7 linked regions of the Homo sapiens genome follow. The protein of the gene in region 4 purifies or fractionates together with the protein of the main gene of each other region. This does not show direct contact. Each region holds a gene or a part of one and is shown on either strand. Other genes may lie near its edges.

What was found.
Region 1: the proteins of OSGEP (region 4) and ACTR2 fractionate together in Homo sapiens (co-fractionation; one large-scale study listed by BioGRID). This does not show direct contact.
Region 2: the proteins of OSGEP (region 4) and EEF2K fractionate together in Homo sapiens (co-fractionation; one large-scale study listed by BioGRID). This does not show direct contact.
Region 3: the proteins of OSGEP (region 4) and TOMM34 purify together in Homo sapiens (affinity purification with mass spectrometry; one large-scale study listed by BioGRID and IntAct). This does not show direct contact.
Region 5: the proteins of OSGEP (region 4) and VRK1 purify together in Homo sapiens (affinity purification with mass spectrometry; one large-scale study listed by BioGRID and IntAct). This does not show direct contact.
Region 6: the proteins of OSGEP (region 4) and CHCHD4 purify together in Homo sapiens (co-immunoprecipitation; one large-scale study listed by IntAct). This does not show direct contact.
Region 7: the proteins of OSGEP (region 4) and CUL2 purify together in Homo sapiens (affinity purification with western blotting; 2 studies listed by BioGRID, with this or other methods). This does not show direct contact.

What each region holds. Positions count from the first base shown.
Region 1 is NC_000002.12:65,244,831-65,248,330, forward strand, and holds part of ACTR2 (actin-related protein 2), read left to right. Parts: intron 1-1,693; coding exon 1,694-1,909; intron 1,910-3,500. UniProt on the Homo sapiens protein: ATP-binding component of the Arp2/3 complex, a multiprotein complex that mediates actin polymerization upon stimulation by nucleation-promoting factor (NPF).
Region 2 is NC_000016.10:22,209,278-22,212,777, reverse strand, and holds part of EEF2K (eukaryotic elongation factor 2 kinase), read right to left. Parts: intron 1-3,500. UniProt on the Homo sapiens protein: Threonine kinase that regulates protein synthesis by controlling the rate of peptide chain elongation.
Region 3 is NC_000020.11:44,957,598-44,961,719, forward strand, and holds the start of TOMM34 (mitochondrial import receptor subunit TOM34), read right to left. Parts: upstream 2,801-4,122; 5' UTR 2,737-2,800; coding exon 2,610-2,736; intron 1,941-2,609; exon of another isoform or gene 740-1,940; intron 711-739; exon of another isoform or gene 696-710; coding exon of another isoform or gene 647-695; intron 1-646. UniProt on the Homo sapiens protein: Plays a role in the import of cytosolically synthesized preproteins into mitochondria. Binds the mature portion of precursor proteins. Interacts with cellular components, and possesses weak ATPase activity.
Region 4 is NC_000014.9:20,448,857-20,451,812, forward strand, and holds part of OSGEP (tRNA N6-adenosine threonylcarbamoyltransferase), read right to left. Parts: intron 411-2,956; coding exon 315-410; intron 158-314; coding exon 108-157; intron 1-107. UniProt on the Homo sapiens protein: Component of the EKC/KEOPS complex that is required for the formation of a threonylcarbamoyl group on adenosine at position 37 (t(6)A37) in tRNAs that read codons beginning with adenine.
Region 5 is NC_000014.9:96,859,882-96,863,381, reverse strand, and holds part of VRK1 (serine/threonine-protein kinase VRK1), read right to left. Parts: intron 2,826-3,500; coding exon 2,647-2,825; intron 1-2,646. UniProt on the Homo sapiens protein: Serine/threonine kinase involved in the regulation of key cellular processes including the cell cycle, nuclear condensation, transcription regulation, and DNA damage response.
Region 6 is NC_000003.12:14,118,371-14,121,870, forward strand, and holds part of CHCHD4 (mitochondrial intermembrane space import and assembly protein 40), read right to left. Parts: intron 1-3,500.
Region 7 is NC_000010.11:35,013,842-35,017,341, reverse strand, and holds part of CUL2 (cullin-2), read left to right. Parts: intron 1-947; coding exon 948-1,150; intron 1,151-3,500.

The sequences.
Region 1 (3,500 bases), on a different chromosome or scaffold from region 4:
CTTGGGAGGCTAAGGTGGGAGGATCACCTGAGCCTGGGGAGGTTGAGGCTGTGGTAAGCAATAATGGCACCACTGCACTCCAGCTTGGGTGACAGAGTGAGACCCCATCTCAAAAAAAAAAAAAAAAAAGAGTGTAAACATTTAATATTTCAGATATTTGAGTAATAAGTTAGTAAGTTATGGTAAATGAACTTCATAAGAAATTGCAACAAATTTTTACTGAGCATTTCTAGCATCTGTTTTTAACTTTGTTATACTTTTTGATGCTTTTAGTGGATTTTCCAGAGATCTGTTTGGTTTTTTGTTAGAGTCCTCACCTTGGTTTCATCTCTGATATTTTCTTTTTCTTTTTTTTTTAATTTAAAACTCATATATTTTTAAGCCTTTGTTTTAAAACATCTCATGTTGGCCAGGTGTGGTGGCTCATGCCTGTAATCCCAACACTTTGGGAGGCCGAGATGGGTGAATTACTTGAGGTCAGGAGTTTGAGACCAGCTTGGCCAACATGGTGAAACCCCATCTCTACTAAAAATACAAAAATTAGCCAGGCGTGGTGGCAGGTGCCTGTAATCCCAGCTACTCAGGAGGCTGAGGCAGGAGAATCGCTTGAACCTGGGAGGCAGAGGTTGTAGTGAGCTGAGATCATGCCACTGCGCTCTAGCCTGGGCAGTAGAGCGAGACTCAGTCTCAAAAAAATAATCTCGTGTTAATTTTGCTGCTGCTTTTTTTTGTCTCTCCATAATTAAAACTTAACGTATTGTAGCAAATATCTACTTCTGATACTAGTTTTTTTAATTGAATTTATCAACATATGTAGAAATTAGTATTATTTAACCTCTTGACTAGCTGTTCTCTAAAAATAAGTCTAAATGCTAGGACATCCTTACTTATTATATATAGAAAATGTGACTTTCAAATGTGGGTCATCTTAAGTATGCTCTCATTGGAGACAAGACTTGTGAGTATTATGCTTCATGTGTGATGGTGTAGTTTTCCAGTATACTTTAAGATTGAAAATGTTGCTCAGGAGACAATTTTAAAGGATGGGTTATTTGCCTATATCTTAATTTTTTATAACTCTACAAATTCTCATTCACCTTGGTGAGGCATATGTAGAAACAGTTTAAATTCTTATTCAGGCATATGTAGATAGAAGTTTGTGCTATTTATTAGTTGGTGTATGTATGCATTATTATAGAGTAATAAAGAATCATTTTATTTTTTGCTTCTTTCATTATGCTTTATAGTACTTACATTTATCATTTTGATATTTAGTGCAAAGAAATGTGCTGCATGCATTGAGCATTTTTCTACAAGTTTTTTTCCCCCTGATGTGCTATTTCACATATCACAGGCCTTATTTTTTGAACAATTGAGCAAAAGAAACAGATGAAACCTCATACAAAACCCTCCAAAATATGAAAATGTGGGGTTTATTTGTGCTAATGCTCTTCTTTTGGAAACATTTGTGTTAAAGGTAAGGTCAATTTATTGATTTAAACCACATTGTATGTAAAAATGTATTATCCATGATTAAACTTTCTAAGACATTGTTCTTGATAGAAAAGATTTTCTAACTTGTGGAATAAAAAGATTTATTTTGCAAGTGTCAGAAATATTAAAATTAATTATTCCCAAGTTTTCTTAAATATTATGCAAAACTTTGATCTACAGCTTTGACATAATTTTCTAGGATCTTATGGTTGGTGATGAGGCAAGTGAATTACGATCAATGTTAGAAGTTAACTACCCTATGGAAAATGGCATAGTACGAAATTGGGATGACATGAAACACCTGTGGGACTACACATTTGGACCAGAGAAACTTAATATAGATACCAGAAATTGTAAAATCTTACTCACAGAACCTCCTATGAACCCAACCAAAAACAGAGAGAAGATTGTAGAGGTGAGTTTTTATGCAGGATATGCATATGTGTATTTCTGTGATATTATGTTAAATCAAAAATTTTCTTACTGTTGCTATGGATAAAGAGAATAAAAATAATTGTTTTCCTTCAGATCTTATTAAGTATCTACTATATGCTAGTCATTATTCTAAGTAGGAAAGTAGGATAGATCAGTAAACAAAAAATCCTACTGCCATGGAGTGTATATATTCTAACAGGGAAAAACAGACCAAAAAAATTAAGTTTTTAATTTAGTGAGTTAATTAAGTTAATTAAGTTTTTATGGAGGAGCCAGCAGAAGGAGACTGAAAAGGCTAATACAATAAGCAGTTACAGAGTTAATTAAATGGTTTGTTAGAAGGTGAGTGATCCAGTTGACCCATGAGCAATGCAGGGGTTAGGGGCACCAACCCTCCCTACTCACGTGCAAACTTAACTACCACCCAAAATACTTAACTTCTAATAGCCTACTGTTGACCAGAAGCCTTACTGATAACATAATATGTATTATATACTATATTCTTAACAATAAAGTAAGCTAGAGGAAATACTGTTAAGAAAATCATGGCCGGGCGCGGTGGCTCACGCCTGTAATCTCAGCACTTTGGGAGGCGGAGGCGGGCAGATCACAAGGTCAGGAGATCGAGACCATCCTGGCTAACACAGTGAAACTCCGTCTCTACTAAAAATACAAAAAATTAGCCGGGCGTGGTGGCGGGTGCCTGTAGTCCCAGCTACTCAGGAGGCTGAGGCAGGAGAATGACGTGAACCCTTGAGGCAGAGCTTGCAGTGAGTGGAGATCGTGCCACTGCACTCCAGCCTGGGCGACAGAGCGAGACTCCGTCTCAAAAAAAAATAAAAAATCATAAGAGAAAATACATTTACTATACCTTAAGTGGATGTAGATCATCATAAAGATCTTCATCGTCATTGTCTTCACACCGACGAAGAAGAGGAGGGGTTGGTCTTGCTGTCTCGGGTGGCAGAGACAGAAGAGGTGCAAGGGGAGGCAGGAAAGATTTATTGACAAAAATCGTGTATAAGTGGACCTGTGTGGTTCAAACTTGTTGTTATTCATGGATCAGCTGTAGATGCTAAAGGCAAAATAAATCAGGTTAACGGGGAGTGGGAGGTTGTAATTGTACATAGGTTGTGAGAAGGTGATGTTTAAACAGACAGGGTAAGTGAGTTAGCCAGGGTATATAGGAGAATGGTATTCCAGATAAAGGGAGTAGCCAGTGTAAAGGTCTTAAGTTAGGAACAAGCTTGGTATATTAAAGAATAAGCAAGGAAGCCAGTGTGGTTGAGGAGAGAGCAACAGAAGATGAGGTCGAGTAAGTAATATTGGTGCCTTGTAGGCTCTAATTAGGAATTGGGCGGCTGGAAGTGGTGGTTCAGGCCTGTAATCCCAGCACTTCTGGGAGGCCGAGGTGGGCGGATCACGAGGTCAAGAGTTCGAGACCAGCCTGACCAACATAGTGAAACGCCATCTCTACTAAAAATACAAAAATTAACTGGGCATAGTGGTGCGTGCCTGTAATCCCAGCTACTTGGGAGGCTGGGGCAGGAGAATCGCTTGAACCCAGGAGG
Region 2 (3,500 bases), on a different chromosome or scaffold from region 4:
AAGTGATCCTCCAGCCACAGCCTCCCAAAGTGTTGGAATTACAGGTGTGAGCCACTGTGTCCAGCCTCTGGTGTAATTTTAAGGAGCCCTCCCCAACCCTCTCTTCCCCTTTTCCTTTTAAAAACAAATCTCCCCACATACCATAAAGAGACAGAGAAGGCCAGGTGCGGTGGCTCACGACTGTAATCCCAGCACTTTGGGAGGCCGAGGCAGGCGGATCACGAGGTCAGGAGTTTGAGACCTGACCAACATGGTGAAAACCCCATCTCTACTAAAAATACAAAAACCAGCTGGGTGTGGTGGTGTGTACCTGTAATCCCAGCTACTTTAGGAGGCCAAGGCAGAAGAATTGCTTGAACCTGGGAGGCGGAGGTTGCAGTGAGCCAAGATCGTGCCACTGCACTCCAGCCTGGGTGACACAGCAAGACTCTGTCTCAAAAAAAAAAAAAGAAAGAGACAGAGAAATCAACTTACCGATGTAAACAGCAACCTGCTGCAGAAGCCAGAGATACGTCATCATTTGCTCTGCTAAAGGCTCGTAAAAATATCATTGCAGTACACTGTGTTTTCTGCATATAAAACTGTCATCATGCAAGGGCTATTTTATTGTTTCAGGAATCTGAAAAATGCATTTTGGAATATGAAACACAAAATATAATTATAGCTTTGATTAGCAAAATGCACAAGGGAGCTTGAACTGTAATGTTTAATCACTTGCTGGGCACTCTCTGCATGTCCACGGTACACTCTACTCCTGGTGGGTCAGCTCAGGGATACAGCACGTCTCACTTCTCACATGAACTGTGTGCCCAGCCCTCTCGGTGGCCAGACCATGTGAGTGTCTTGAACAAAAGGGGCCGTGTGTCTTGTTCCTCTGCAGCTCCCAGCCCAAAGCACAATGCCTGGCACACACCATAAATGCACAAGTGCATGCTGCATGAATGAACGAGTAAGTGAAGAAAAGCTGGCAGTTTCCTGCTGATATAATGGAGAAACAGAAGGACTTTTGGGTTGTGGCTGGGCACGGTGGTTGACCCCTGTAATCCCAGCACTTTGGGAGACCGAGGCAGGCAGATCACTTGAGGCCAGGAGTTCGAGACCAGCCTGGGCAACATGGAGAAACCCCATCTCTACCAAAAATACAAAAATTAGCCAGGTGTGGTGGCACACGACCTGTATAGTCCCAGCTACTTGAGAGGCTGAAGCATGAGAATCACTTGAACCAAGGAGACAGAGGTTGCAGTAAGCCAAGATTGTGCCACTGCACTCCAGCCTGGGCAGCAGGGCAAGACTCTATCCCCCCGCCCCCAGACCTCCGAAAAAACAAACAAACAAAAACAAACAAAACAACCTACTGTGTTGTAACTACATAGGAGTTACTTAGTCCAATGACATGGCTGAGGTCGTAGTGGGAAAGACTGGCTCATGGAGGACCTGATAAGCACCAAAACCAGATCTAGCCAAACAAGGCCTTTGGGATGAATTCAAGTCCTGGCCCTGCCACAGTCAGCTGAGGAATGCTGGGGGAAATTACTTAACCTTCTGAACCTCAGCTTCTTCATCTGTAAAATTCATCTACTCAACAGAGTGGAGCAAAGTGAGCAAGGTGGAGAAGAAGTGAGAGAGGGGGCCTGAAAACCACAGGTGGCACAGAGAGCTGGCTTTCCTCCAGGAATCCTTTCTCCCCTGCCTGGCCACGGACATTTCCCAGCATCCCTTGCAGCTAGGTAAGGTCATGTGACTGCATTCTGGCCAATGAAAGAGCACAAATAACTTGTACCATTTCTGAGCCCGTCCAGCAGCCCATTTTCCATACCCTGGTTGGCTTCCTCTCCACTGTGATCCTGCCCAGAACAGATTGGTAGCATTTCAGTATCACTTACAAAGCACTTGCTACATAACTCCTCCCAGCTCCCTAGAAGGCAGGCACTCCTTCCTCCTCGGGCTCTGAACATGCTATGCCCTCTGTCTGGTACACACCCCAGCCTGTCCTCCCTACTCATCCCCTGGCCAACTTGACTGCTCATCCCTCAGGTCTCAGCTTAGATATCACCTCCTTCATGAAGCCTCCCCTGAACCCCAGGAGTTAGTCGCTCTTAGCTTCATTCTACAGATGAGAAAACTAAGGAACAGAGAGGTTATGTGACTTATCCCAAATCACATGACTAGAGTTGGGTTTGAAGCTGGTGCGGGCTGAATCCAGAGCTTTCAATGCAGTCATCACTTCCTTAACCAGCGCTTCTAAAAGTATGGGACCAGCTGCCGCAGCAGCCACTGCAGCAGCCTCACCTGGCAACTTGCTGGTAATGCAAATTCTCAAGCCTCACTACAGACCTACTAAATTAAACTCTGGGGATGGGTCCAGCAATCAAAGTGTAAGCAAGTCCTGCTGGGGATGCTGATGTGCACTGAAGTTAGAGAAACGCTGGCCTAGGGCAATTTTCCGCAGTTTAGCCACCTACTTCCGGGTGCTTCCTCTGGCTTGCTAGTCCTTGCTAGAGCTCGAAAGCTTCACAGCTGGAGAACAGAACGCCATCCACCTTCTGACTCTGGAGCCATTTGAGACGCTTCTCTAGGAGTCCCACAGCCCTGGGACTTTGGGGGTTGTGGGGAGCACTGTTATTTTCTGCTTTATCATCAGCGTGTTAGTGACTCACTCCTTCCTTTGTCTGAAGCCTTCTTATATGGTTGGGCACGGCTCATGCCTGTGATCCTAACACTTTGGGAGGCCCAGACAGAAGAATCGCTTGAGCCCAGAGTTCAAGCCCAGCCTGGGCAACAGAGTGAGACCCCATCTCTACACTAAAATTAAAAGTTAGCCAGCCATGGTGGTAGCTCATGTCTGTAGTCCCAGCTACTTGGGAGGCTGAGGCAGGAGGATCACTTGAGCCGAGGAGTTCCAGGCTGCAGTGAGCTGTGACTGTGCCACTGCACCGCAGCCTGGGTGACAGAGCAAGACCCTGTCTCAAAACAACAACAAAAAAGAAGCCTCCTTGCTTGTGCTCATCAGCCTTGGCTGCAAGAATTTGATCCAGCAACACTTTAAGGCCCAAGCCGCTTTCATCCCAGGTGGAGACAAGGTCATCGCTCTAACCACCTTCTAGGAGCCTTCTCAGTTCATCAGGGTAATAACCTGCAGCTTTCAGGTCAGCAGAACCAATCTCCCTCAACAAAAAACACTGATTCTTTTAAATTAGTTCAACCTGCCGCTATTACTTTGTCTATAGCCCTGATCATTCAGTTGTTCTGCTTCAGGTGTAAGAACTGGACCAGAAATAGTGAATCCCGGAGAACGAGCTTGAACAAGTCCAAGCTTCTGCTGTTCACCCTTGGCTTTCTTCACACAGCTCCCAGAGTCCCGGCAACCAGACGACAACCCTGCCAAAAACTGGACAAGACTGCTTTGGGGACTCTCCCCACAGCAAGATAACAACCCTAAAGACATCCTTCCCGGGTGGGCATGGTGGCTCATGCCTGTAATCCCAGCACTTTGGGAGGCG
Region 3 (4,122 bases), on a different chromosome or scaffold from region 4:
TTATCTCAGAATCCACCACTAGATTTAGCACGTTATATTAGTTCCCAACTTTTTTAATTTTTAGAGACAGCGTCTCCCTCTGTTGCCCAGGCTGAAGTGTAGTAGCACAATCATAGCTCACTGCAGCCTCAAACTCTTGGGCTCAAGTGATCTTCCCAGCTCAGCCTACCAAGCAGATAGGACTACAGGTGTGTACCCCCAAGCCCAGTTAATTTTTAAAGTTTTTGTAGAGACAGAGTCCCACTGTGTTGCCCAGGTTGGTCTTGAATGCCTAGCCTCAAGTGATCCTCCCGCTTTGGCCTCCCAAAGTGTTGGGATTATAGGCATGAGCTATGGCACCCAACCCTTAAAAATTTTTTTGATAAGCTAAAACTCCAGCCATCCCCATCCTTATCCCTGTGCTCCCTCCCCAGACTCACAGAGGCCAGTACAATCCTGAAGTTGGTATGTAACATTTTCAAGCATGTTCTACATTTACATATATATGTATATATGTATATGTATATATGTATACATGTACATGTATATATATGTATATGTATATATATGTGTGTGTGTGTGTGTGTGTTAACAGGAAAGATACCATTTTATGTCTATTAAAGCATTTCCTAAGAGGCATCATATTGCCTATCCTTCTGCAACTTACTTTTTTCACTCAGTATCCTGTTGCCATGTTGATATTTGATATCTTTCATTCAATACCAACAATAACAAGCGTTTTCCCCTCTTGTTTTGCCAGGCCCAGAGACGGAAAGTACAAAGACTAGTAAAATACATCCTTGCCCTTAAGGAGCTAAGTACCCAAAACCTGTAATCCATCTTGAGTCACCAGAGTACGGTTGCTCAGAAACAGCAGTGGTGCGGTGGAAAGGGCATCAACCCTGCGATCCGGACAAGTCACTCCATCCCTCTGATCATGCGTGCCCACCTACCACATGAGGATATCACTTCATAGACTTGCTGGAAGGGTTCATTGTGTTAGCCTGTTCCCTGAGCTCTCTTCGTGATCAAGAAGACTGATCAGATAAATCAAGAGACTTGCCCAAAATTACCTAGGAAATCTGTAGCAGCAGCAGAACCAAACTCCGGTCCTTGCTAAATCTAGATACCAGGCTAGCTTTTCTATGGACCCAGAATTAACCCATACAAATGTACAAGCTTTTCCAGACCAGCTGGGGTGAGATGAATGAAAATGGCAGCAACATCAATACCTCAGCTTCTTCAGCAACTTCATCAAGTAAGGCTGCCATGAGGAAGTGGGCCTAAAGGAGAGTTTTCTAGAACAAAGAAGGGGGCAAAGGAGTGGCTTGAAACTGCAAAAAGTGCAGACAAAAAAAAAAAAAAAAAGAATGAAATCTGGAGAGGATGTGAGGAGAGGTCTAGCAAAATGATTAAAAATTTGGACTTAGCATCAAAGTCAAACAGATCCATATTCAAATCGTGGCTCTTCCATGTCTTCACTATGTAACCCCGAGGGAGCCAATTTAACTCTCTTGGACTCCTCCTTTCTAAGCATTTTATCCACAGGGCCATAATAAAGATCAAAGGAGATCGTGTCTAAAATGTCTAGCACATGGTAAATCACTCAAGAGATGCTAGCCAAGAAAAGGAAAAAAAGGAAGGCGGCAAAGGGAAATAGGTACTGAACGGTGACTCACAGAAACCAGGATCCAAGGCTCCTTTCAAAAGTCAAGGCTTTAACCAATGAGGGTTTCTGATTAAGTCACCCTGGAGAAGGGGCTTTGGGCAAAGGTCTGCGGTATGCTGACGAAAGCTGGACGCTGGGAGAACTGGTAAGAATATGCTATTCTTCTGTTTCAAACTCTCCAGTAGCTTCCCATCCAGCAGCTTTCATGCCAAGCTTCCAGTTTGGCATGAAATCCGAACTCCTTAGCAGAGTTTACAACACCTCCACAATAAATAAGGGTCTGCCTTCCTAACTGACCTCATGTCTTCCTATTCCCTGCCCTGGCTCACTATGCTTTGACCCCTGAAACACACCATGTTTATATCGTCTTGGAGGGGGGGCCTTTCTCATTGCAGTTCACTTCAGGACCGAAAACCTTGTGCGCTTGGCTTCTCATCATTTAGACATCACCTCAAATATCACTTCTTTACAGATGTTGCCCTTGATCTCCCACTCCAGTCAACTCTATCACATCACCCTATTTGTCTTCTTCCTAACCCTGATTATCCCACAGGTCTCGTTTACTTACTGACTCGCTTAAGACTCACGTCCTCCCCACCGCCCCCACAAGAATGCGCTGTCCTTGAGAGAAGGGACTTTTTGTGTCTTGTTACACAGGCGGTATATAACAGCTACTCAACAAATACTAACTGAAAAATGAATTGCTGCGGGGGAGGAGGGTTTAGCTTTCTTCTCAGGGCTCAGAACGAGGCCTAAATAACTTAGGATGGGGGCCAACAGGGCAGTTAACAAGCAGGTGGAAAGAAAGGGCCGAGGAAGTTTCTGGTAGGATGCCGGAGTCGGAAGGGGCTGGAAGGGTGGGAGGGCCGGGCAGGACTGCTGGCCGCCGCGCGAGGCCCGGGCGGTGGTTGCGGGAGTTGGAGGAGCAGGCCCGGAGGTGAGATGGGGGCCGGGGTCGTACCTTGCGCCTGCAGCACCCGCAGCGCGCGGCCGTAGAGCGCGGAGGCCTCGGCGTACTGGCCGTTGCGGAAACTCTCATTGCCGGCGGCGCGGAGCTCCTCCACAGAGTCTGGGAATTTGGGGGCCATCCCGTGGCCAGGCCGGCGAGTTGGGAGCTCCTTCCTTCCTCCCCCGTGTGGTGCGGCACACCTTCCGGGCGCAAGCGCCGGCGGCGAATATCTCCGCCCAACAGCGAACCCGCGGCGAGGGGGCGGGGCCTGCGAGACCTGGAGGCCCGGAGCGTCCCGCCCTCTGCGCGTGCTCGGTTTGGAACTTAGGCTCCCTTGCACGCGGGGCGGCAGCATGCTCTGGGCTCCCTGAGTTGCTAGAACGCCGTGGATGACGCAGGGAAGGAGGCTGGCCCCGCTATCAGGGAGATTATGTCCTAGTGGGGTCCCCACAGGCAATTAACTGATAAGCAAACGAAGACTCTCATTTCATGTGATTAGTGCTGTAAGGAAAACAAAACAGGATAATGCAATGGAAAGTGACCACGTGTGGGCTATTTTAAATAAGGGGATGAAGGAAGGCCTTTCTCAGGGGGTAATAGTTGAGCTGAGACCAGACAAGATTTAGGGAATGCTGTTCCAGCCAGAGGGATGGTAAGTGCAAAGGTTCCAAGGCTAGAAAGTACCTGGTACCTAGTGCTCTATAGATATTTATTTAATAAATTAATGCACAGGTGGATTGATGGTGTCAAAGTCAACATATAGAGATGAATCTCTAAAGTTTAAATATTTTATTTGGCAATCAAGAATTGCAATTCAGGGCTTACACACAGACCAGGTTGTCTTTGGTATGTCAGAAGAACAAAGAGAAGGTTTGGAGATTTTTATAAAACAGAAATGTTACATATTGCTCTTCAAGGAAGTTTACAGGCACTAGTAAAGTGGGGGTTTATCAGCTTCTTGGGGAGCTGGCAAGCTTTGATTGGTAAGTGATAGTGGTGGATAAAACTCAGAATTGTAGCAGGCTGTTTCAGTAGCTATTAGATAAAACTGGTTTTAGGTTACAGCAGGCAGTTTTAGCAGCCAGGCTTGCAAAAAATTACTTTTTTGGAGCAATGTTATATGCCCTGAGTATTTGTTCCCCTGGCTTTTCAATTCTGTCTTAGTTGGATATGACAAGAATGACCCAATTCGTATGATCAGCTTTCAGAATGGATGAAGATCTTTCACAGAGTGTGACTTCAATTTATCTCCAGCCTCATCTGACGACTCTATGTCCCACGCATTGCTATCTACACACACTAAATTCTTGCTTCCTAGCCTTTGCTTGTTATCTCCTTCTCCTGGATTTTTTTTTCTAAATACTTTTTCTCCTGCCTAATCCTGAATTAACTTATAACATTCCATTCAAACATCATCTTCTCTGAAAGCCTTTCCTGCTTCCAGCCCCCTCCCCACCCCCCACTATGCTCCCTTTGCTCCCTATTGGTCTCTAGCTTTATCCCTAACTTTGCATTAGTCACCCTT
Region 4 (2,956 bases):
GCTTCTCACCCTCCAAAGCCCGTCCCAAATTTTGTTAATATATACCGTATATGGGGAAATCCCTGAAGCCCCAGCAGCCAGCCTGCTTCCACCTTATGTCCCCTTACCGCTTTGCCATCTGTTCAATGTTGTATCCTGGACTTGGGTCGTTAGAAATCTAGCAGAAGAAAAAAATAAGGAAGGAGGGAATGGAAGAGGATGAAATCAGATATGCAGGAAGCATAAGAAGCTCATTTACTATTTCCTCCCTCCACCTCCATGGCTTCCCAAAAATTCACCCACATTTTATGTTCTCTGCAGCCCCACTGGCTTACCTTCAGCACTCGAGCAAAACGATCCAGACAATTACCCACTGCAATATCGATGGTTTCCCCAAAGATACGGTAACGATGTTCCGAGTATGCAATCACCTAAGGGTGATGAGGAAGTCCATGAAACCCCAAGTCTGTAAAGAGGATTATTTGGCTTTGGGAGAAAAACATAGCAGAGGATCAACATGACCACCAGGGCTTCCAATAAGAAGTGGAAGAAAGGTGTTTCCCAAATGGTGAATGGGTAGTTTTTACAGCTCTGATTTGAGAAGAAATCTGTATACCCTGAGGATTCCAGGAACAGATTCCTAGACAGTGTAGGTTCAGGCAGAAATAAATTGTCATTTCAAATACATTGGTTTTCCGGCTTAGAAGTTCCTAATATATCCCTTAAATGCAGTCTTGATAGTAGGTAACCGGCTTTTCTGCTTGGAGGCAGAGAACATGAATCCTTCTAAATTATGACACAGTGGCAGTGGTAATTTTTTTTTGAGACAGGGTCTCGCTCTGTCTCCCAGGCTGGAGTGGAGTGGTGTGATCATAGCTCACTGTAGCCTCCACCTCCTAGGCTCAAAGGATCCTCCCACCTCAGCTTCCTGAGTAGCTGGGCTACCATGTGTGGCTTATTTTTATATTTTTGTAGAGATGGGGGTCTCACTATGTTGCCCAGCCTGGTCTCAAACTCCTGGTCTCAAGCAATCTACCTGCCTCAGCCTCTCAAAGTGCTGGGATTATAGGTGTGAACCACCGTATGCAGCTGGGCAGTGGTATTTAGAACCAAGAAGCAGAGCTGAAGAACTCAAAAATCTCATATGGAGTCAGACTAATGGCCCAGCCAAGTCAGCAATGGCAATTCACTTAAGGCCATTTTTCTTTTCTTTTTTTTTTTTTTCTGAGACAGAGTCTTGTTCTGTCGCCTAGGCTGGAGTGCAATGGCGTGATCTCAGCTCACTGCAACCTCTGCCTCCCAGGTTCAAGCAATTCTCCTGCCTCAGCCTCCCAAGCAGCTGGAATTACAGGCACCCACCACCACTTTTTTGTATTAAGGCCGTTCTTCATATGTGACCAACTTTTAGCACAGAGAATATCTGTCCCTTACTGACACATATTCTGCAGACTTATAACACCGAGGGCTTCCTACGAACCTTAAGAAGTCCCTTTCCCTTCCCAGTGCTGTTAGGGATTTCTTCCCTTTCTGATACAGATCTTAATCTGCTGTCAAAAAGACAGTAACAAAGGCGAAGGAAAAATCCTGCCTTTCTGCTTCTGCTATCCACTCCTCTCCACCTAATCACCCTCCCTGTTTCTTACACCTAAGCAAACATTAAAAGAGAAGAGGAAGACAAAACCGTCACTGCTCCTTTCATCAACTCTTGTAGCCTCCATTATACTTTCCACAACCCAAGTCTCTGACCTTGTATGTCATCCTTCAGGCCTCAACCAACTACTTGCCCTCTACCTGCTGAAGTTTCTGCATCATTTTCATGGGAAACATGTGCCTCATCTTCTCGACACAACCCTTTCATGAGCTGGGGACAATGCTGAACTATTTCTAATGATAATCAAGTGTTCTGTTGGAAAAGAATCCAATCCCAACCTTAAAAAGGTCATATAAGGTAACCCAAACAACTTTAGCTTCACCTATAAATTTAAAATACCTTCTGGCCGGGCATGGTGGCTCACGCCTGTAATCCCAGCACTTAGGGAGGCCGAGGCAGGTGGATCACCTGAGGTCAGGAGTTCAAGACCAGCCTGACCAACAGGGTGAAATCCCGTCTCTACTAAAAACACAAAAAATTAGCCAGGTATGGTGGCGGGTGCCTGTAATCCCAGCTACTCGGGAGTAGAGAAGAATAGTTTGGACCCGGGAGGCAGAGGTTGCAATGAGCCAAGGTTGCATCATTGCACTCCAACCTGGACAATAAGAGCGAAACTCCATCTCAAATAAATAAATAAATAAATAAGATAAAATAAAATACCTTCTATAATTTACAAAGTATTTTTTAAAGTTATTTATATTTCTAAACTCTTAGAATAACAAAGTCTACATAATCATTCCCAGTAATATAAAAACAAAACATGTACTTGCCCCAAAATAATAAATCAGGTAGTGTCCTTTAGTTGTTTTTTTTTGTTTTTTGTTTGTTTGTTTGTTTGAGACGGAGTTTTGCTCTTGTTGCCCAGGCTGGAATGCAATGGTGCGATCTCGGTTCACCGCAACTTCCGCCTCCTGGGTTCAAGTGATTCTCCTGCCCAGCCTCCGGAGTTGCTAGGATTACAGGCACCTGCCACCACATCAAATTAATTTTTGTTATTTTTAGTACAGATGGGGTTTTGCCACGTTGGCCAGGCTGGGCTCAAACTCCTGACCTCAGATGATCCACCCGCCTCGACCTCCCAAAGTGCTGGAATTACAGGCATGAGTTGCCATACCCAGCAACTGTTAGTTTCAATTGCTAAGATTTATAGAAAAAATAAGCTTCAAAATAATGCAAGAGCTTTCAGATATTCATTATTTTGAAGATTTCAATCCTTTTCAATCCCATTCATTCCTTTCCTGAAGTAGAAATTCCTAATCTTTATAATCAGATATAAAGTCTGATAATGATAAGCCATCTAATGTTCTGATCATGCTGCCAAAATTT
Region 5 (3,500 bases), about 76 Mb from region 4:
CTAGAGACCTAGCCTAGATCAGGTACATAAACTAGACTTTTTATGTAATTGTTGAATGTTAATTTATGAGTATACACTGAATCCAATAACTGTTGCACTGTACTGCCAGATTCTAAAAACTGAAAATGTTTAGTTCTAATCAACAATAAAAATATTTGACTTTGTACTTTTTAAGGGCAGATGTATACTTGATCTCTCTGTTCTCCTTCAGCCTTATGTCATCCCAAAATTCTATGCTTTAAATAAAGCTCCTTGATTATTAAGCAGAAAACATTTCCAAGTGGGTAAATTCATGTTTCACTCTAGTTTCCAAATATACTGCACCATAATCAAGCATGGCTGCAAAAACATAGACAAGAAACCTTGCTTCATTCCACTGTTCATCAATTCCTGTAGGTTTTTACCAAAAAGAATATTTCTTAGGAACCTAAATACAAACATATATTAAACTGATTAAACCTACCCCTTTCCAAAAGAGATCTGAGTCTGATATATACACAGAAAATATACTTCACACTTTCAAAAATTATGACAAACGAAAAGAGAGGAAACAAATGTACTAATTATTAAAATTAACAGTTTCTAGAACTAAGCATCATATTTAGTTTTGAGCCTCCTGACATCCAGAGCAAAAAAAGACATCTGGGTTATAGATCTTGCTGAAAAACAGAGGCAGCAAGCTAGTTTCTCAAAGGAGAAAGCTTTTCATTGCAGGGAGCCCCCAACTTCTCATCCAGCAGAGCTCTGCTTTTATCTGTTTTCAGTGACAGCATTTACAAATTATATGAAGAAAATGTTCTGCAGTTTAAAAGAAAAGCTTGAAAAAAAACTGGTCTGGTCCAGTTCTTTCACTTTACAAAAAAAAAAAAAGCTAACAAAATTAATAACTCACTTCAGTTACATGGCTATCAAGCAGCTCATGATCTTACCTAACCTTAACTTTTATTAATTTCTTTTTAATACAAAGAATAACCCTGTGTCAGCAATGAGTGTACAAAAAGTAGTAAACTAATGAAATAAATCTCCTAATAGTTCAACTTGTTCAACTTAGTATTCATTTTTTTCCCCTAAATGAAGCTTTATACATGTCAGGGATGATCCAACAGGAAATTTCCAGCCTTCTGAACTATCCAAGGACACCACAGAATTATAAGGTCACAGATGTTAGCTCTGCAGCAGACTGACCTACTCAGCTGTAAAGTCAGCCAACCTGCAGAAACTACATTTTCTCCAGCATGTAAGTCCAAACAACAAAGGGATTTGCAAAGGAAGGTAGGGGCGGGGACAGGGGGATGGGGGTTGGGCGGAGGGAGGTGGTTGCTCTGGACAAGTTCTCACATAGCAGCAGAGATCTTTACTTCTCAATCACCAAAATTTTAGAGAAAAACACTATACAAGCTACCTATAAATATTAACGCAGAGAAATCTATCCTGAGCAATAAGAAACATGCTGCTTGTTTATGCATGTATGCAAAGAGTAAGTTTACTATAATACCTTACTAAAAAATTCCACTCAGGCTTCCATTTTACCCTCTTCATTTCAAACAGATACAGTTTTCAGCACACTTGTTGACCACAAAACTGGAGCAGATGCAATTAAGATAAAACTTATCAAAGAAAAAAAAGTATATGTAGATGCATGTATATAATTTCAGATTCTATGATGAAATTACAGAGACCTGCTATTTGGCAAAGTTAAATTTTTGGTCCAATTTCAAAATTCCTATCTCCTTTGTTAATTGAAAAGATAAAAACTTTTCAATGTGCTGCGTCTGATTTTAAAGAGAGAAAAATTTGTTTTAACGCTTTTTCTCAGTTTGGAATACGAGATTTCCAAATAAATCTATTAGAATTTGCAAAGTTAATGACAGTAAAAATGGTTAATAATGTAAAAAAAATTTTTCTTCTAAAAGTTGTTTTCCTTCCTCATATAAAAATAGCTAACACATTGTATTAAATAATTTCAGATTATAAGGGAAATCAGTAAGTTTATCAGTAAGTTAATTATCAAAAATAATCAATAGCAAATCAGTAAGTTAATGCATACCTGTAAAATCTAAAGTGATGCCAGAAGTTCTTTACATGCTTGTATAATACTTCTACCATAAAGTTCATTATTTAACATTTCTCTCCAAACAATTAATCCCCTTATATGCTGATATATAGCTTTATATAATATTTCTTCACAGAGCAAAATAATGTTCAAATGGTAAAATGCACCACACCAACAAACAAGGAAATTTTCAAATGGTAATTTTTCAAATGCCCGTTTTCAACTGGTAAATACTCTGACCATATCCACAAATAAGAAACAACCAAGACAAGATGAACCCTAAGTGGTGACTTGGGAGAAAAGAACATATAAATTATGAATTCAGTGCACCATCAAAATTTCCCTGTCAGATATCAGTATTCCAAGTTAAAATCAGTTCAGGAATTTAGTAACTTGCTACTAAACATAAGAAATATATAAATATTTATTTTTCTACAACCCTCTACACATTTTCTGTATTACAAAAAATGTTTGCCTTAATTGCCATGCAATCTGTTATTGTTCTTCATTGAACTACTGCTATACTTTCTTTTAGTATTTATTGCAATTATAAACACAAGAAGACCAAAGAATAATTTAATAACAAAATTCACCTTTGTTATTGTTTTTGCTTTCAAACCTCCATTCTCCACAACACTGAGGTCCAATTTGCCATCATCCTTACTTCCTATAGCTTTTAGTCCTTGCAAAAGAATGTCACGTAAATTTTCATAAAGAGGTTTTTCAGTGTAGTCTAGTAATTTCACTGTTTCCATGTATTTGGCAATTTCACCTAAAAGAATAACACAATCATTTTATAACTTTCAATATATTTCTCTCTAACCTCTAAAAAAAATAATTCATGGTTATAGTAAAGTTAGAATGCAAATACACATCTTGTTAAGATACCTATTTTTTTCAATCACTTCAATGAAAAGTATGCTTTTGAACTCAGGAATTGTCAGATAACTGAAATTTAAAAAGTATTTTGAGATACAATGTAAAACACACTTTTTGTAATTGTGAGAAACAAGACAACTTAAAATGTAAATACTCATAAAAATAACTATTATAGTATTAAAGTTATAAAAAAATACAAAGGGATCTAGAATAAAGATTAGAAAGTAAAATGTCCTTAAATACAATGAATATCATAGCCAATATGTTTTTGCCATCAAAGCCATTAGCTCTATAGCAGATAGCTATATTCTTCGTGTAAATGAGAAATAAAACACACCAAAAAGAGGCCAAAGAAAGAAGAAAGAAATAAGATCTGGCTTTCCTATAAAAGAGAAAAATCAGCTTCCAAATGATAAAAGTGTACTGTACACTTAGACAGAACCACACCATAAAAAAGAAATCCTACTAGTCAAGATCAACACTTCTCAATATTAAAAATTCATTTTTGAGCTAATGACTCACACACAGACCTTTCCCCCGACCTCCAGACTTGTATATCCATCATTTC
Region 6 (3,500 bases), on a different chromosome or scaffold from region 4:
GAAAGCAAGGAAAAAGGTTTGGGCCCATGCTTGGGCTGAAGTAATTAAGGAAGAGGCTTCTGGAAGGAAGGGGGCAGTGACAACAAAAACCGAGCGACATCTCCAGTGAGAAGGACAGTTCAGGGGACAGAGGGAGGGCACTTTGGTGCCTTACGCCATGCCCACACTGCACAGGGTCTCTTACACTAGAACAGAGTAACAACAAAAAACCCTCAGCACACGGGGCCAGGACCCCCAACCCACTGGAGGCTTTTGCTCCCAGAGCTGGCCTCTGCCTCAATACCTTGCATGTCATCCAACAGAAGGCTGCTTTTCCCCTGTGGCTGACTGGGGAAAGCTTTTGGACCAGGCAGCCAGGACTTGTTAAAGTACCTAGTAACCTTGATTCTACTATTCTGGCCAGTTTCCAAAATACTCAAAAGCAATCTGTAAAAATGTTGAACGCTAAGCAGAATGAGCTGATGCAAATTTCGCAACTCAGCTCTGGCAGTTTTGTTTACCGAGATGGCAGCTCAGCGCAGCCCAACGGGGAGGCCCAGTCACAGGCACAGAAAGCAAAGGGTCCAAACGTGGTAAAGTATGAGGCCCTCCTGGGGTTTGCCATACATAGAGAGACCAGGCCTCACCCAAGAAAAGCTGAATCGAGCTCTCTGCCATGTCCATGTAGCTCACGGGCTTCACAGGTGACTGTGATACACAGCCAGGTTAGGAAACACCAGCCTAGCACAATCCCACTGAGAATTCCAGGTCCCTCCCACTGGGCCAGGTCCTCACATGTGCCTTCCTGGACATTTTCCCTTGCAGCACAGTTCACACTGGATCGAAAGTAGAACAGTAACAGCTGTATCTTTTACACATTTTTGTCCCATGCAATGTGTTTTATTACATCTGTGAGTTCACTGGTGGGTATTACTTTATCTCCATTTTACAGAGACCACAGGATCTGAGAAACAGACCAAAAGACATGCAGTAAATGAAGGCAGAACAGGAACAGGAACTCTGGTCTGAAAGATCTGGAGTATGTCCCCTACAAACTGTCCATTGTATGCCTGTCCTAGAGGGCCTTTGCTTTCTGGAACTTTTAAAAGTCGATTCAAGGACTGATGCAAGGACAAGGCTTACCTATTCCTAACAGACCTAACTGTGAAAGAAAGGACTGGTCAGACTAGTCGTAAGATGCCAACTAGTGGGACAATCAGCTAGACTAGTAGTTCTCATGACATTTGTCAGCAATTTCTCTAGAGAAATAAAATTTAAAAGTGCTTGTGTTTTTATTTCTAAGATAAGCTTTAAAAGCAGTTGAATATGCATGTTCTGAAGGAGGTGGAAAACTACCTTAAACCCTCTGGTGCACAGTGGCTTCAATATTTCAATATCACAGAGAGTCTGAGAACTGGAGTTCAAATCTGGGCTTAAGCACTTCCCACTGTATGAGCTCAGGTACCATCTGGGCCTCAGAAACCAGGCCTTACCACCAGCTCCACCTACCTACCTCACGTGGTTGGGGAGGTGAAATGAGTTTCTGCTGTCAGCTGGAATCCCACTTGACAGCAATTTTTAAAGGGCATCAAGGATAGCATGGCCAGGAAAAGAGACAATCACAGGCTCAGAGATGTCAATAATGTTTTGGAAATGGGAGAGCTGATGGTCGAGTGCTCTCTGACTTAACCAGTGAAGAAAGCTGAACTCAAAGTGCACAAGGAGGAGGTCATCCAGAATCAACTCAGTCCCCACCCCAGAACCTTGGTCAGAGTGGGGAACTGGAGGCCCGAGGGGTTACTCTGAGTGCAGGACTTCAGGGTGGGGCTGAGAACAGAACTGAGTGAGCAGTCAGATACAAAGACACCTTCCACCCCCAGCTGTTTAGTTTTACTCTCGGTAGAGCCACCCCAACCCGTCTTTCTCTCACATCTCCAACAGCAAATTGGAATGGCTCGATCTTCAAATACATCCAGAAAGAGCTGCATCCCTCACCTCTTCGACCCCATCTCCCACCATCACTCCCTGCACTCCAGCCACGCTGGCCTCTGCTTTTACTTGAATGTGCTGAGCACATGCCTACCTCTGGCCTTTGCACAGGGTGTTCTGTCCTCCAGGAGCACCTTCCCTTCCCTCAGGTACCCTCACAGCGATTTCTCCCTGCTTTCACCTCCTGCTCAGATGCCACCGTCCCTGACCACTGCCCATCTCCCTTATCCCGCTTTATCTTTCTCCAAAGTGCTTTTCGTCACCCAACATACTATGTATGTTTACCACTTGATGCCCCCACTGGAATGTCAGCTCCTCAGAGGCAGTGATTTTTGTCTATTCTGTTCATTGCAGTATCCTGAGAGCCCAGAATAGTACCAAGGACAAAGTGGGTGTTCAATATTTGTTGAAAAAAATGAATGGAGAAACAACTCTGGATTAGGGCTTGAAGACCCAAGTGTAAGAATTAAAGAGGAGAGAAACACGAAGGGTGGCTTTTCAGTCAACAGGGACAGGTTTATTTTAAACAAACCTGAGAGGGGCTGCTGGCTGAGTTAGGTCAGAGCCACACTCTCTTACAGACTAAGAGTTTTTAAGGATTCAGGGTGGGAGAGCTTATCAGTGGCTTGGACTGCTTCTGTGTCTCTTTGTTGTGCTTATCTGGGAGGCAGACTGGTGTGTCTGTTTCCATACATCTTTCTGCAGCTGCAGGCATATCCCCCCAAGACTGCTTTTAGCTTCCCTATCTTAGTACACCTGAAGGGAAAGGAATGTGCTTATTAAGGCCCACAGTTTTACTGGGGCCCATTGTATGAGGGTGAAGTTTGGCAGTCACCCAAGAGACTTTCCCCCCACCTCCCTCTGTGTCCCAGCTGTCTTGTCTGTGTTTTACTGTCTGCTCTTTCTGGCTGCTTGTAGTTAGAAGAGAAGTGACTTCCTTGAAATGCATGAGGCTAGAAAGGGAGCTGGAACTTAATGTGCCAGTGTTTGTCCGAGATGACGCTACTCCTGCTCTGTCACCCAGTCCCAGCAGAAAGCAGGAAGACAGAATGGTTATCACCATTAAGTGAGTGAGACCAAAAAATCCCTTGGATGAGTAGTTTGATTTCCCCCATGAAAGGGGAGGATCTTTATACACCAGAATCTCTCAGCTCATCCACCCCAGAAGGAATGCCCCTGTGTCCTGCAGAGGAAGCAGTTTATTGTCTCCCATGGATGCTGACTCCCCAGGGTCATGTTTGAGAATGGCAACCTGCACTAAGGACTTATTTTCTTTCGTTTTTGGCTAAGTTGATTCAATACACCTGTGATACAATTCCAACCACTACTTTCTGAAGCTCAACCCAAGAAAGAGATCTAAAGCCAGAGGGAGTGGTGCCTGTGGTGTATTTTGAGTGAGGTAAGGGGTTTCTAAGAGTTTGATAAATCTGACTGCTAAGGACTTTCATGTTTAGAATCTAACCCCTTTGAAAGATACAACTCCCCCATACAGAATCAAGTGTCTGTGAAGAATACACAAATGGCTTTCAGAC
Region 7 (3,500 bases), on a different chromosome or scaffold from region 4:
CATTTTTATGAAAACATTCAGATTCTTTTGCTATCAACTTTCAGCAAGAGAATGGGTCTGCCTGTTTGTCTCTCCTTTCATACCTGTTTGCCTCTAGGAAGTTACTGGAAAGAAAAATGTTGTTTATGAGACATAATAGCATTAATTTTGGCAGAAATTACAGCTTAGACAGGGCCTCAAAAGCATTTTCCATGTGGCTGTGGACCTCCCAGGAGGCTTGAACCTTACCTGGGAGAGCCCAGCTATCGACAGCACTTGAGGCTGTTGCTGATATCACTTTGCCCTTTGTCTGTCCATTTCTCCTTCTCCCACCTCCTTTTATTGTTTGGGTTTTTTGTTCTTTTCTTTTTCTGCCTAAGTCTTAGCATTTCTATTAATATTTAAAGACTTTTTTTTTTGTTTTTTTTTTTTTTTTGAGACAGAGTCTCGCTCTGTCACCCGTGCTGGAGTGCAGTGGTGTGATCTTGGCTTGCTGCAACCTCCGCCTCCCAGGTTCAAGTGATTTTCCTGCCTCAGCCTCCCAAGTGGCTAGGATTACAAGCATGAGCCACCATGCCTGGCTAATTTTTGTACTTTTAGTAAAGATGGGGTTTTACTATGTTGACCAGGCTGGTCTCGAGCTCCTGACCTAAAGTGATCTGTCTGCCTCGGCCTCCCACAGTGCTGGGATTACAGGCGTGAGCCGCTGCGCCTGGCCTTAAAGACTGTTTTAACCTACTGGTGAAGTTATGATAGTTTTACTGATTTATACCATATACTCAAAACTAATAGACTTCCATCCTCACCTCCCCAAGAAACAAAATGACTACCTTGTTAACAGCAGTGGCTTTACAACAATTTAATAAAATTATTGGTTCACTCTTTCCGAAGAAAATGTCTGAAATAAAGTAAATTTGAAATGTTTCTTTGAATGGTCAATTCACTGTCAGTTTTTGTTTTAATTGTAGGTGAAGTTAAAATGAACTATTTGGGCAAACCATATGTAGCCATGGTTACAACATACCAAATGGCAGTTCTTCTTGCCTTTAACAACAGTGAAACTGTCAGTTATAAAGAGCTTCAGGACAGCACTCAGATGAATGAAAAGGAACTGACAAAAACAATCAAATCATTACTTGATGTGAAAATGATTAACCATGATTCAGAAAAGGTATGTAGTAATATTCCAAAGAATTTAAGCATCATCAGCATTAAAGCTTTTTCATGAGATGTTTGCAGTTTTAAAATAAGGCTGTAATTGTTATTGTGCTCTGGAAAGCACTTGTATTCACTACGTTACTGTACGCTCCATAGAGCTGCGAGCGTTAAGGCATCACAGAGCATGCTGTGTGAGTTGGTGCCATGTGCCGTTTATAGTTTGATTTTATTTGTCCTATACTGTTACAGCTTATTGAATAATTGTAAAAGAATTGCCATCTGGAAGATTTTGATTAATTGAGATTTTGAAACTAGCCTTTAAAGACTTTCCAGGTTTTTGGTTTTATAAATGTGCTTAATTTCATGGTTCTATAACAGGAAATGACAGCCTGTTGATGTCTGTTTGTACACATATTTAATATGTGTAACTCCATTCCAAGTGTTCTTAATGTCAGCACTCAATTAACTGTCATCTGTTTTTAACCACCATATATTTTTAATATCTGTCACAAGAATAACAAGCCATTAGTATATTACTTTTTTTCTCTGTAACTTTTTTTCTAGTTACAAGATTTTGCTGTTTTGTTGTCATAGTATATCCTAGATGTTTAAATAGTTAAAAATGCAACAGAGGTGGGATTATATCTCCTTCAAATTATTGTGCTTATAAGAAAAAATTCCTATAAATAATGTTTTGTTTTTATTTTTGTAAAGTTAATAGCCTACAGTTTATTTCTCTCATTAATTCATTTTGCTGACATCCCTAGGATTATGATGACATTTTATAGTCTATAACTGAACAACTGTAAAAGGCATATTCTGAAATTCAAATCAATGTTTTCATAATTTTGAGAAATGATTTATCTGGCATCAGAATCTTAGCAAAATATGGATTTTTTTTTTTTTTTTTTGAGACGGAGTTCCACTCTTGTTGCCCAGGGTGGAGTGCAATGGCGTGATCTTGGCTCACTGCAACCTCCACCTCCTGGGTTCAAATGATTCTCCTGTCTCAGCCTCCTGAGTAGCTGGGACTACAGGCACGTGCCACCATGCCCAGCTAATTTTGTATTTTTAGTAGAGATAGGGTTTCACAATGTTGGCCAGGCTGGTCAGGCTGGTCTCGAACTCCTGACCTCAGGTGATCCACCTGTCTTTCCCAAAGTTCTGGGATTACAGGCGTGAGCCACTGTGCCTGGCCAAAATAGGGATTTCTTAAGGTTAATTAATTATGGTTTCTAATTTTAGGCTAGTAAATTCTTAAAGGTTTTATATTTTTTTCTAAAACATGCTATTTTTGCTGCCCAGAAATTGACAAAGTAAACATAGATTCCTTGTTTGCACTTTAAATTTTATTTTATGTTTATTTATTTTTGAGATGAGATCTTGCTGTGCCACCCAGGTTGGAGTGCAGTGGTGCCATCTCAGCTCACTGCAATCCCCACCTCCTGGGCTCAAGTGATAATCCTGCCTCAGCCTTCCAAGTAGCTGGGACCACAGGTGTAAGCCACTATGCCAGGCTAATTTTTTAATTTTTAGTAGAGACCGGGTTTTGCTTTGTTGGCCAGGCTGGTCTCAAACTCCTGAGCTCAAGTAATCTGCCCACCTCAGCCTCCCAAAGTGGTGGGATTACAGACGTGAGCCACCATGCCTGGCCTTTAAATTTAATTATGAATCTGTCCATTCCTTAGCAGAATGTCTTAGATTATTATTGAGAATTATTTCATCTTCCAAGTGCCTTTTGATTCTGCTGCCAGAGAAATTCCACTCTATGATATCAGTGGCTTTCTTAAGCCTGATACAGAAGTTGTTATTCTAAAAATTGCCTAAACAGTTTTCCCCTGAGCAAAGGCCACTTGCTTCTTGAAGAGTGAATAAAACATGGATTGAAATAAATGTTTTCACCATCACCCCAGGTCACAGCAAATTGATGCTGTGTGCTACTGGAGGCACAGCTTTCTCTTGTCATCAGGCCATTTACAGTGGGTATTTTGTTACTGCGGCATTTGTAAAAAAAAATGTGGTTGCTTTTTCAAAATGGGGTGATGGAAAAGTTACGCACTTTGGTGTTTCATAAAAATTAAAATGTCAAACTCTAGGCAATGAGCTTGACTCTTATTTTATCAAAAAGTAGTGTATATAGAATAGTAGGACCAGAAAATAGCTTATTCCCAAACATAAACTGCTTAAGATTCTGGCAGATGTAAAAGTAGAAAATAATTGGGTTTTTTCCTGTTTGTTTGAACAAAAGAATTATTTTTCTCTTAAATTTGGTAATCTATAATATAAAAGTTATGAGAGTGGAGGCTTTTTTGCTTGGTCATTAATTTAGCAGAATTGCTTGCAGCAAACTCTTATTTAAAGAT